2 separate regions of the Homo sapiens genome follow, and region 2 is linked to region 1. The links come from fine-mapping of genetic effects on gene expression. A gene starts in region 1. The other region holds a variant in brackets. All regions are shown on one strand. Distances are from middle to middle. Region 1 holds the start of FOXI1 (forkhead box I1). Region 2 has its middle 20 kb from the start of LINC01187.

Region 1 (5,374 bases):
AGAGTGGGTCCTGACCCAGCCATGAACTTGTGTGACTCTGGGCCCTCTCTGATTGTCATCTGTAAATGTAGAGTCTGGTTATAGAATCGGTGTCTACGCTGAATATTTCTCCCTCTGTTTTTGCATCATAATCCCTGTCACATCCCTGCTGCATGCTGCATGCGATTAACTCTCAGTGTAGCAAACATAGGTGTGCTTGATTGTACACAGCAAATGTATACTGACTATAATCTATAATAACTAATATTTATTGAGTGAGCCTGTATGTGCCATGTGAAATGATTGACATTGATTACACTGACTACCTCACTGAATGCTCACTGCAACTTCGTGAGTTAAGTACTGGCATCGTTCCCTTTTTCACCAGAAAACACTGAGGCTGAGAAAAGCTAGATCACTTGTCAGGGCCTGCAGTGATCCCAAGGTTGGGATTTGCAATACCAAGGTTGGGATTTGCAGCCAGGTCCTCCTGATCTCAGAGCCTGTGTTTGCTACGTCTCTGCTATATTATCTGTTTTTAGCCTTTCAAATTTAACCCCAAAAGCAAGTCACCTGTGTGCTTGCCTTTCTCTAATCATTTAAATCAGAAACTACGGAAAAACAACAACAAAAATTGCATCCAATTCTTCATCCAGAAATAATAATTGGCAGTTTGATATTTATGTTTCTAGATTTCATATACAATTATAAATACATATTTGTACTAAAAAAAAATCTCATGGCATTTTGCAACCTGTTTCTCCAAATAATATCATGAGAACATAAACATCTTTTCATATCATTAGTTATTTTTCCAGAATCTATTTTTCATAGTTGCATAATATTACATCATTTGGATGATACACTATTTAGCCAATCCCCTACTGTTGGGCATTTAGATTAGTTACAATTTTTCACCGCTATAAACAATGCTGTGGTGGGCATCCCTGTGGCTAATTCTTTGCTCTGTTGAATTTTGTAAGATAAGCTTTGAGAAGTGAAATTGCTAGGTTAATTGTAAGGCTTTGAGTCTGTACTAGGGGACTCCAATGTGACTGCTCTTTGAAAAGTCAGGGCTCCACCTTCAGCAAGCCAGGCCTCCTCATAGAGAAACTGTACCAAACAAAAATTCTGCCTCTGGCTTGGCTCTGCAAAGTGTGCCTTACTCTAAGCCTCATCTGGACAGCCAGAGCCTTTCAGAGAGTCACATTTCATCACTGTTTTATGGTGGGGACAGGTTCCTCTGGGCCTAACATGACCACTCCTACCCAGTTACCTGGAACTCATCCTCTGGGCACCAATATGCTGAAAATGAAGTTTATTCAGTCTCATTCATGTTTGCCACATGTGTCCCCACATAACCATGAAAGAGGAGCAGAGAGGGGAAGAATTCTTTGGGGAGCATCCTCTCCAGTTGGGACAGTCAGTGACCTCTTTCTCTTGCCTCAAAGAAAGTAGGGCATGCAGGAAGTGGGAGGAAGCTGGATGGGAAGAAGAAGGAGGCAAGCGGGAGCGAGGTGGTGACCAGAGGGGCTGACCCCAACTTTTCTCCCATCTGCTTCATCACAGAGAGAAGTCTCAGCTGCTACCAGAACCTGGTCAGGGGCCAGCGCCTACCCTCTGAGTAGGGAGACCACCACCCATGGCCCAAGCTGAGGGCCTGACCTGGGGCACCAGGGGAGGCTGGGACAAGATGGAGGATGGAGCCCAGATAGGAGAGGAGCTGGCTGAGCCACAGGGAGAAGCCAGCAGGGGCTGCAGCTCCTGCTTCTGGAGCCTGAGGGAGAGAGAGAGAGGACGCCTGGGGCATGGTGAGTCGGGCGCTCTCCTCGTGCCCTGGCTGCCTCCATGCCAGGGGCCTCTGCGAGCTGAAACATGAAAGGTCTTTGGATCAGAGAGGAGCTGGGAGCCTGCTTGCCCTGCAGCTGGAAAGAAACTTGAATTGTTCAAGTTCTCTCACTTTTCCCTGAAGACTGATTCCCCATTTTCCCCTTTTGCTATTATTTTTAAGAGCCTTGCTGCTCTCCAGGCAAATTCTCAGGTTCTCTGCCCGTCTGCAGCATGTATGCATATGCGTGTGTGTGTGCGTGCGTGTGTGCGCGTGCGTGCGTGGGCGTGTGCGCGTGTGTGGGCGTGCGCGTGTGCGTGTGCGCGTGTGTGCGTGTGCGCGTACGCGTGTGTGCGTGTATGTGTGTGTTGGGGGAGGCTGCGGTGCCTATGACTGGTTGCCCCCTTGAACCCCACCAGAAGCCAGCCCAGGCCCCTCTGCGCCCTCTTCTGAGTCTCCAGGGCCGGTTCTCTCCTGGCAACTCCAGAAAGTGCCTCCTCACCTCAAAAGACCAAGAAACAGGGTTTCTGATAAAGTGTCCCACCCAGTCCCGGCTGGGGCAGTTGGTTAGAGAATGAGGGGACATTGGGGGGAAGAGGAGGGAGAATGAGGGGATGGGAAGAGAGGCGCAGAGAAAATGAGAGGTGGAGAGAAAGGGACAGAGTGAAAGAGAAGGAGAAAGGGGAGAAGCCGGGAAGACAATGAGAATGGAAGCGAGAGATGGAAGTGGAAAGAAGAACTGGAAGCCTAGAGACAGAGGGAGAGAGGGAGAGAGGGAGGGGGAGAGAGAGAGAGAGAGAGAGAGAACGGGAATGAGCAGCTGTGATGTGGCCAGATCAGTTCATAGAAAAGAAACACAGTTCAGAGCAGAAGGGAGGAAAGAAAATAAGAAGGAAAGAAACAGAGAATGAGATGCAGAGAGGAGAGGAGGGAGAGAGAGAAGGAAACCGAGGTGGGTAGAAAAATGTGACGAAAGGGAAGGACAGAAAAAAAAATGAGAGAAGTAAGACAGAATAAAGGAGAAAAAGAAGAAGGGAATCATGAGGATGGTGAGAAAAGACAGGAGAGAAAGCCGGGAGAGAGGATAGAGGGGCGTTCTCGCTGCGCTGCGTGTCAGCTCTGGTAAGCCGTCTAGCATGTCATTAGTGGGGACCTGAGGCGCCAGCGGGAAAGTCCCCTCCCCGTGGGCTGGAGGCTGAGGGAGGGCGGGCCCTGGGCTGGGATCCACAGGCAGGTGGCCGCCCCTGGGTGGGGCCGCCCGGCCAAGCCCTAGGGGTATAAGTGGGAGGCCGGGCCTGCTGAGCACCTGTCAGGGGCAGCTCCGGGGTGCAGGTGCCAGGCAGGTGGCTCCGGCCAGCCCAGCCCCAGCATGAGCTCCTTCGACCTGCCGGCGCCCTCCCCACCTCGCTGCAGCCCCCAGTTCCCCAGCATCGGCCAGGAGCCCCCCGAGATGAACCTCTACTATGAGAACTTCTTCCACCCACAGGGCGTGCCCAGCCCTCAGCGGCCCTCCTTCGAGGGGGGCGGCGAGTATGGGGCCACCCCCAACCCCTACCTCTGGTTCAACGGGCCCACCATGACCCCGCCACCCTACCTGCCCGGCCCCAACGCCAGCCCCTTCCTGCCCCAGGCCTATGGAGTGCAGAGGCCGCTGCTGCCCAGCGTGTCGGGGCTTGGGGGGAGCGACCTGGGCTGGCTGCCCATCCCCTCGCAGGAGGAGCTGATGAAGCTGGTGCGGCCACCCTATTCCTACTCGGCTCTCATCGCCATGGCCATCCACGGGGCACCCGACAAGCGCCTCACTCTCAGCCAGATCTACCAGTACGTGGCCGACAACTTCCCCTTCTACAACAAGAGCAAGGCCGGCTGGCAGAACTCCATCCGCCACAACCTGTCGCTCAACGACTGCTTCAAGAAGGTGCCCCGCGACGAGGACGACCCGGGTAAGGAGGCTTTGAGTGTGGGGGGTGTCCCCAAGGAAGACTCACTTCCTTCCTCCCCAAGACCCCATTCTAGAAAGTTCTGACTAGGGCTGTGCCCCCCAAGACTGGGGGATGCTACCAGGCAGGACAGAGGGGAGCTCAGCAGTGAAGGAGAGCATGGGCCTGGGGGAAGATTTGGGTTTCAGCCCTGGCTGTGCTCCTGCCCAGTCAGTGACCTCTGGCAGGTTAGACCTCAGAGCCTCAGTTCCCTCATCGGAAAACCAGGGATAGTGACAGCATCTGCTTTGCAGGCTGCAGTGGAGGTGATGAGATAATGTACACAAGGTTTTAGGTGTTATCAAGCGCTTAATCGCCTGCAGTAATTACGATTCATCTGCATCTCCAGCACCCAGCACATAGAAAGTCTTTGGTGAATGAATGACTGGACCAACCAAAGCCCAAGGGCATCCCAAGACTGCCAGGAAGAGGATCTGACCTGGGTTAAACAGCCACTAATGGCCCATTTTGCTGCCTGCCTTGTTTCTACTTAGGTAACCTCCTTTAACCCGAAGACACCCCTGCAGGGTAGCTCTTATGAAACCCATTCTACAGATTAGGAAAATAACACTCAGAGGTGACACAGAATGAAGTGATAGTGATGGAGCTTGAATTTGAACTCAGTTTTCTCTAACATCAGAAATTGTGAGCTTTTCCTTTTCAACGATGCATTTCTAAAACTCAGAGACCTGCAGAGAGGCATGTATTAAATACTCATGCATCCATTTCCCAGAATTAAAGTCCACTTTTGTTCCACCGCAGGAAGCCAAGGTATAGCTCAAAGGAACCCCAACTCTGCCCCATTTGAGGGTGGCAAACACCAGGCCTGTTTGTCCCCAGAAGAGGGCAAGTGTCCTGTCCAAGGACTGCCATCACCCTCAGGCTGAGAGACGGTAGCAGGAAGAGTTCAGGCCTTCCCTCGGGAAGGTACCTCCCAGCTGCAACGCTCCTTTCCATATCCGGTGTGGATCCTTTCTCAGTGGGCCTGAGGAAGACAGGGGCAATGGGCCCACTTTTCAGACTAGAAAACAGGTTCTTCCAAAGCCCCTCAGTCAGTGAGGAGCAAAGCCAGGACTCAAGTCTGTCTTCAGACTCCAAGCCTACGGCTATTAGGGAGTCCCAGAGTTTTCCTGAGTCTTCTTTTCCTTCAGCATTGAAAGCCCTCCAACCCCCAACCCCCAAATCCCTCAGCATCCCTGCTCCCAGTTCTTCATCCTTCTTAAAGAGACCTACATTGCAAACTCCTTAATGCTCATGCCTCTCGGCTGCAGTCCCAAAGGGCCCTGTCATGGGCTGCTTAATTAAAGATGGAGGTGGTGTGGTTCATCAGTTGATGGAATTCCTCCATTTCTCAGTCCCTGCCTGTCGGTCTCTGTCTTCCTGCATCTGTCACCTTGGCTTTTAGTTTATGACAATAAGGAGGAACAGAAGCAAAGCATTTTGTCCACCTCTCTATTTACCCCCTTTCACTTTTGTATCAGGCAAAGGGAATTACTGGACCCTGGACCCCAACTGTGAGAAAATGTTCGACAATGGAAATTTCCGCAGGAAAAGGAAGAGAAAATCAGATGTTTCCTCTAGCACAGCC
Region 2 (5,374 bases), 74 kb after region 1:
CCTGCCGCTTTTCCCAGCACAGTGGTTCAGGTGTGGACTCTGGAGATAAAGGGCCTGGGTTCAAATCTTGGCCTAATCACTAGCAGGTGTGGTCGACCACTCTGCGGCCCTCTTCCTTCGCTTATAAAATGGGAATGATTTGGTATCAACCTCACGGAATTGTGGTGAGCACTAAAGAGACGATGCCAGTCAAATGGTGGCTGTGGCTGGAGGGTGAGTATGAGGGCTTTTTCTGGAGTGCTGGCGGTATTCTGCTTTTTGATCTGGGTGCTAATTTCACAGGCGTGCTTGGGGTGTGAACATTCATTGAGCTGCACAATTATGATATGCACACTTTTCTGAAAGTATGTTATACTTCAATGACAAGTTTTGAAAGCCTTAGTCCGATGCCTCTTGTTGAGCTCTGCTAACAACAATGAATGTTATTAATTGTCAGGGTCCTACGGCCATGCTCCCGAGAGATGCTGCACCAGAATCTTCCGAGTCCAGGAGCTTGCTGCTCTCTGGAGCCCTGGAAGGGCAGATTATATTGGGGAAACTGAGGCATTGAGACCCAGAGGCTCAAGGTCATGGGGCTCAGTAGGAGCCAAGTCACCCAGAGCCCAGCAGCACCCTCCCCTTTTACCTCCCTCCTGCCGGCAGCTAGCAGGGGTGTGGGGGCCCATTAAATCCTAGGCAAATGGGCTCTGGGCGCGTGCAGCCCTCAGGTCCCAGGACAGCTCAAACAGGACTGGACTGCCTGGTGCCCCATGGCAGCCGCCCCCTGGCCTCTAAATGATGGTGTGGAGCACTTGGCTGTTTGCAGGGTAAACAGGAGGGCTGGAGCAATGGGAGGCAGGTGTGCTCCACTGCCAAAGCAAAACAGAGCCAGTGCAGGGTTCCCGCACACCCTGGGGGGCCGCTGAGGGCCAGCGGTTGCTATCAGGGTGAACACCAGTTGTCAGTAGAAAAGGAGGCTTTGCTTCATCCACCTCCAGCAAGTTCTTGCACAGTTCATCCTGGCAGCCTCTGGCCTGAGTGAGATAGCAGGGTAAGGTTAACCCTCACCTCCCCAGCACAGAAAGGACTGCAGAAAGCCCCGAGAGCCTCAGGCTGCCTCCACCTCTGTCTCTGCAGTGCCTGGTACAGTTCTTGGCTTCCTGACCAGGAGGCAGCATGGGGAGATAAATACACACAAAGCCAGAATGCGTGGGTTCAAGTCCCGGCTCTCCTGTTCACATTTGTATGACCTGGGGCCAGCTATCTAAACTCATTCCTAATTGCAGCTGCTGTGAATATTGAACACCCAATAACTTAAATAGCTAAACAGCTCAAGTAGGTGAGTCTTGTCTTAGCCAGTTCCCAGTGAATGTCATAATGTGGGCCTAACACTGCCAGATTTGTAGATTTCTCTGGAGACACACAAAACCTAGATTCCTATGTACAATCTCCTGATTTGTAAATGTTGGCAGCTAACCAGAAAACACCCCGTGGCCTATAAAAAACAAGTCTGGCAATTGGGTTTGACCAGTGGCCCTAGTTGTGGACCACAGATCTAATCACATCCTCAGCTCGTTAATGAGAAGACTGAGGACCAGGAAGGAAAAGTGATTTGCCCAACCTGGCACAGTACTGACTGCCAAGACACCAAAACACGCATTGTGGGTTAGGGCATCATGTATGTACACAGCAACTCCTCAAGGTAGGTTGTATAATCCCCACGAAAACTCAGAGGGGTCGAGCAATTTGCCAAAGGTCACCCATTGGCAAGTTCCCAGCCTGGATTCAAATTCCAGGATAAGTCACACTGTCTCCTTAGCACTGAAAAAACTGGAACCCACACCTGTTTCCTGCCCCGTGAGGATGGCACTGCTGTCATGAGACCCACTGTGCCACATCATGGAGAGCAGCCACTGCTCCTGCCTGCTCACCTGAACTGTCTCCCAAATGCCCAGAGAGGACACCTTAACCCTTGCAAGACAAGAAAGAGTGTCGGGCTGTCTTTCTTAGAAAAGTCTTTATTATTAAGCAATATATAAATATTTTGTCATTATAAAAAAATCAAGTGACAGAAAAGATAAAGAGTTTGTCTCTAATTCCACTCCCTTCTTAGGTGCAATACTATTATTAGTGGTAATGCCACCTCCTTATAGACCCCCCACATCTTTTTTTTTTGCAGTTCTGCTCTTGTTGCCAAGGCTGGAGTGCAATGGCACAATCTTGACTCACTGCAGCCTCCACCTCCCAGGTTCAAGCGATGCTCCCGCCTCAGCCTCCAAAGTAGCTGGGATTATAGAGGCTTCCACCACCACACCTGGCTGATGTTTTTTTTTTTTTGTTTTTTTTTTTTTTGGTATTTTTAGTAGAGATGGGGTTTTACCATGTTGGCCAGGCTGGTCTCGAACTCCTGGCCTCAGGTGATCCGCCCACCTCAGCCCCCCAAAGTGCTGGGATTACAGGCATGAGCCACCGTGAGTGGCCCTTATGGACCCTTCCTTTGGAAAGCTCTCAAAGTTGCCCCAGGAGCTGGCTGAGGGCCTGGGCCGGTCTGAGACACAGGGCGGCTGAGCCGGCCATCACTGGGCAAGACAAGCCCTCTGGCCAAGAGCATTTCCCAAGAAGCCAATGACCATAGAAGGCCTTCAAGAGGTTG[C/T]GAGAGCTGCGTAGATAACACCCGAGGATCAGGAAGTAAGAAGTCCCAAGGCGGTGCTTCCCATTGCGGCTAGGTCAGAACCACCAGCCCCAGGCAGAGGGAGGTGTCTCTAGTTCTTTCTCAGGCCTTCAGGTAGTATCAAGCTGAAAAGTCTTGAGAGCTGCTAGGATGTCTCAATGCCTCTGCAACTCTTGCTCTCTCATTTTAACAAGCAGAGGGCAGGCCTGCTAAGTCATAGCACTTCTGCAAGCCGCAATGCCTAGCTATAATTGAGTGGCTTTGTTCTGTTTTTATCATCTTCATTTTACAGTAGCCTTCTATTTATGGCCATGCTGGTTGTCCATTTATAACCAGTGATAGAGATTTCCTCTTAGAAATAAAGTTTGAGGGTTTTTTCGGTTTAAATTAAAATAGTAAATAAATAATGTTTCAGGTGATAGACAGAAATGACAACAATCATTCTGTTGGGAAGGAGATGGCTGGATTCTGGCACACGCTGTCTTAGATAGATGAGACGGCCTTCTTTTTTTTTTTTTTTTTTTTTTTGGACCGAGTCTCACTCTGTCGCCCAGGCTAGAGTGCAGTGGCGTGATCTCATCTCACTGCCAGCTCCGCCACCCGGGTTCACGCCATTCTTCTGCCTCAGCCTCCTGAGTAGCTGGGACCACAGGCGCCTGCCACCATGACCAGCTAATTTTTTGTATTGAGGATGGCCTTCTTAACAAAGCCCTGAAAGAGGTTGTCCAGCCACCCTGGAGGCACGCGGCGTCAGGCCTGAACTGCACAGTGGCTGGATTTACGAGGAATGAGCAGCAGTAAGCCCAGGAGAATGTGAAACCAAAATGCCCTGTGATGACCCAGACAAGACCAGAGTCACTCCTGGAATCTCCATAAAGTCGGTCAGGGCAAACTCGAGGACACAGAGTGAGTCTCTCAGCCTCCCTCTTCATGGATCTGTTGTTTCTCAGCAAGACCTGGGGACTGACATCAGTCTGGTGTAGTGCAAAGAGCCCTGGACCAGAGTTCCAAGGCCTCAGTTCCAGGGTCAGGGCTGTTGTAATGAACAGCTCTGTCCTCCTGGGGGTTGAAAGGGCAGGTGGTACAGTTAAGACTGTGTGCGTTCAAAATCCTTCTCTTCACTTTCTGAGTTTGTTTCTTTCCTCAAATTACTTACCTTCTTGTGCCTCAATTTCCTCATTTATAAAATGGGAATAATAATGGTTCCCATCCTTGGGTCCTTGTAAGGATTAATTAAAATAAATCATTTGAAGTACTCAGCAGAGGGTCAGCAAGGAACAAAGCTAAGACTCAATGGATATGAGCTGTCATCACTACGTTTATGATGATCATGAGTGTTTTACTAAACAGAAGTCTGCTCATATCAGGGGACTTTGAAACCTTTCTACTCTGTCTTGATGCTCCAAGATTCCTATATTCGCATCCAGCTCAGCTTTTGGCTATGGAACCTTAGGCAAGATGTTCATAAACCCTTTAATCTCTAGTGCCCTTGTTCATAAAAAGAAGTGAATCGGATCCCTGCAGGACTGTTTTTGTATTCAGTGCACAGGTGTGTGTGAAGACACCCAGCATGTTGCCAGGCACACAGAGATGTCTACCTTGATACTTTTCTCTCCTCCTCCCCGCAAATACACACACACACACACACACACACACACACACACACTCACACACTCTTATTTTGATCTCGGCCTGAGGCTGACAAGCCCCAGATTAGTGATCAGTGACAATTTCGGCTTTATCAGCTCCACTCAGGGGTATTTGCATATTGGTAGAGAATCTGGAACAGGAAAACACCTCCTGTCTCAAAAGAGTGAATTGCAAATGGTAGGATTATCAGATTTCATTCATTTACTCATTTCATTCACTGAGGACTTGTTTGTGAAGTGGCCTTCTAACAACTTCATTTCATTACAAAAAAAAATGATGTATGTGTTTAGAAAAAAGTGAACAATTCAGAGACAAAAAATACATTCAATAGACCCTTTTTTTTTTCTTTTTGAGACAGAGTCTCGCTCTGTTGCCCAGCCTGGAGTGCGGTGGCACAATCTTGGCTCACCGCAAGCTCCGCCTCCCGGGTTCATGCCATTCTCCTACTTCAGCCTCCCAAGTAGCTGGGACTACAGGCGCCCGCCACCACGCCCGGCTAATTTTTTGTGTTTTTAGTAGATACGGGGTTTCACTGTGTTAGCCAGGATGGTCTTGATCTCCTGACCTCGTGATCTGCCCGCCTCAGCCTCCCAAAGTGCTAGGATTACAGGTGTGAGCCACCGCGCCCGGTCTCAATAGACTCTTAAACCTCCTTTCTCCCATTCATCTCTTCCTTTTGTGCCCACTCAGAGATGCAAGGTTGACACTTGGTGTGAATCACTCCGTACTTCTCTTTAGGGTCATGGAAACATGTATGTCCACACATAGGAGAGAAGGGGACAAAAGGTGGTTTGCTTTTTCCAAAAAAATCACACTAAATATATATTTATTTGTATACTTTTTCACTGAATGCATCATGCCCATCTCTCCAGATCAATTTTAAAAACCTCATTATTTTTCATAACTGCTTAGTCCAATACAGTAGAGTGCCATAGTGTATTCAGCTTATTCAGTCTCTCCCTTATTGAGGCATATTAGTCTTGGGGAGATTTTCCAGTTCCCTCTTGACAAATACAATCAATGCAGCAATTATCATCATCGATGTACATGCATTCTTACAAGCTTTCATTTTTT

The links. PIP is the estimated chance that this variant, and not a neighbour inherited with it, causes the effect.
Region 2: its variant is the best candidate, but not a certain one, in a credible set for the expression of FOXI1 in whole blood (TOPMed, PIP 0.58).

What each region holds. Positions count from the first base shown.
Region 1 is chr5:170,102,782-170,108,155 of GRCh38, forward strand. It overlaps FOXI1 (forkhead box I1), which reads left to right and starts at 3,116. Exons shown (of 2, transcript NM_012188.5): 1 at 3,116-3,750; 2 at 5,268-5,374. The coding sequence starts at 3,177.
Region 2 is chr5:170,176,344-170,181,717 of GRCh38, forward strand. No RefSeq gene overlaps it. Among named protein-coding and RNA genes, the nearest start is that of LINC01187, 20 kb to the right of the region's middle. The variant C/T (reference allele first, on the strand shown) is at 2,633.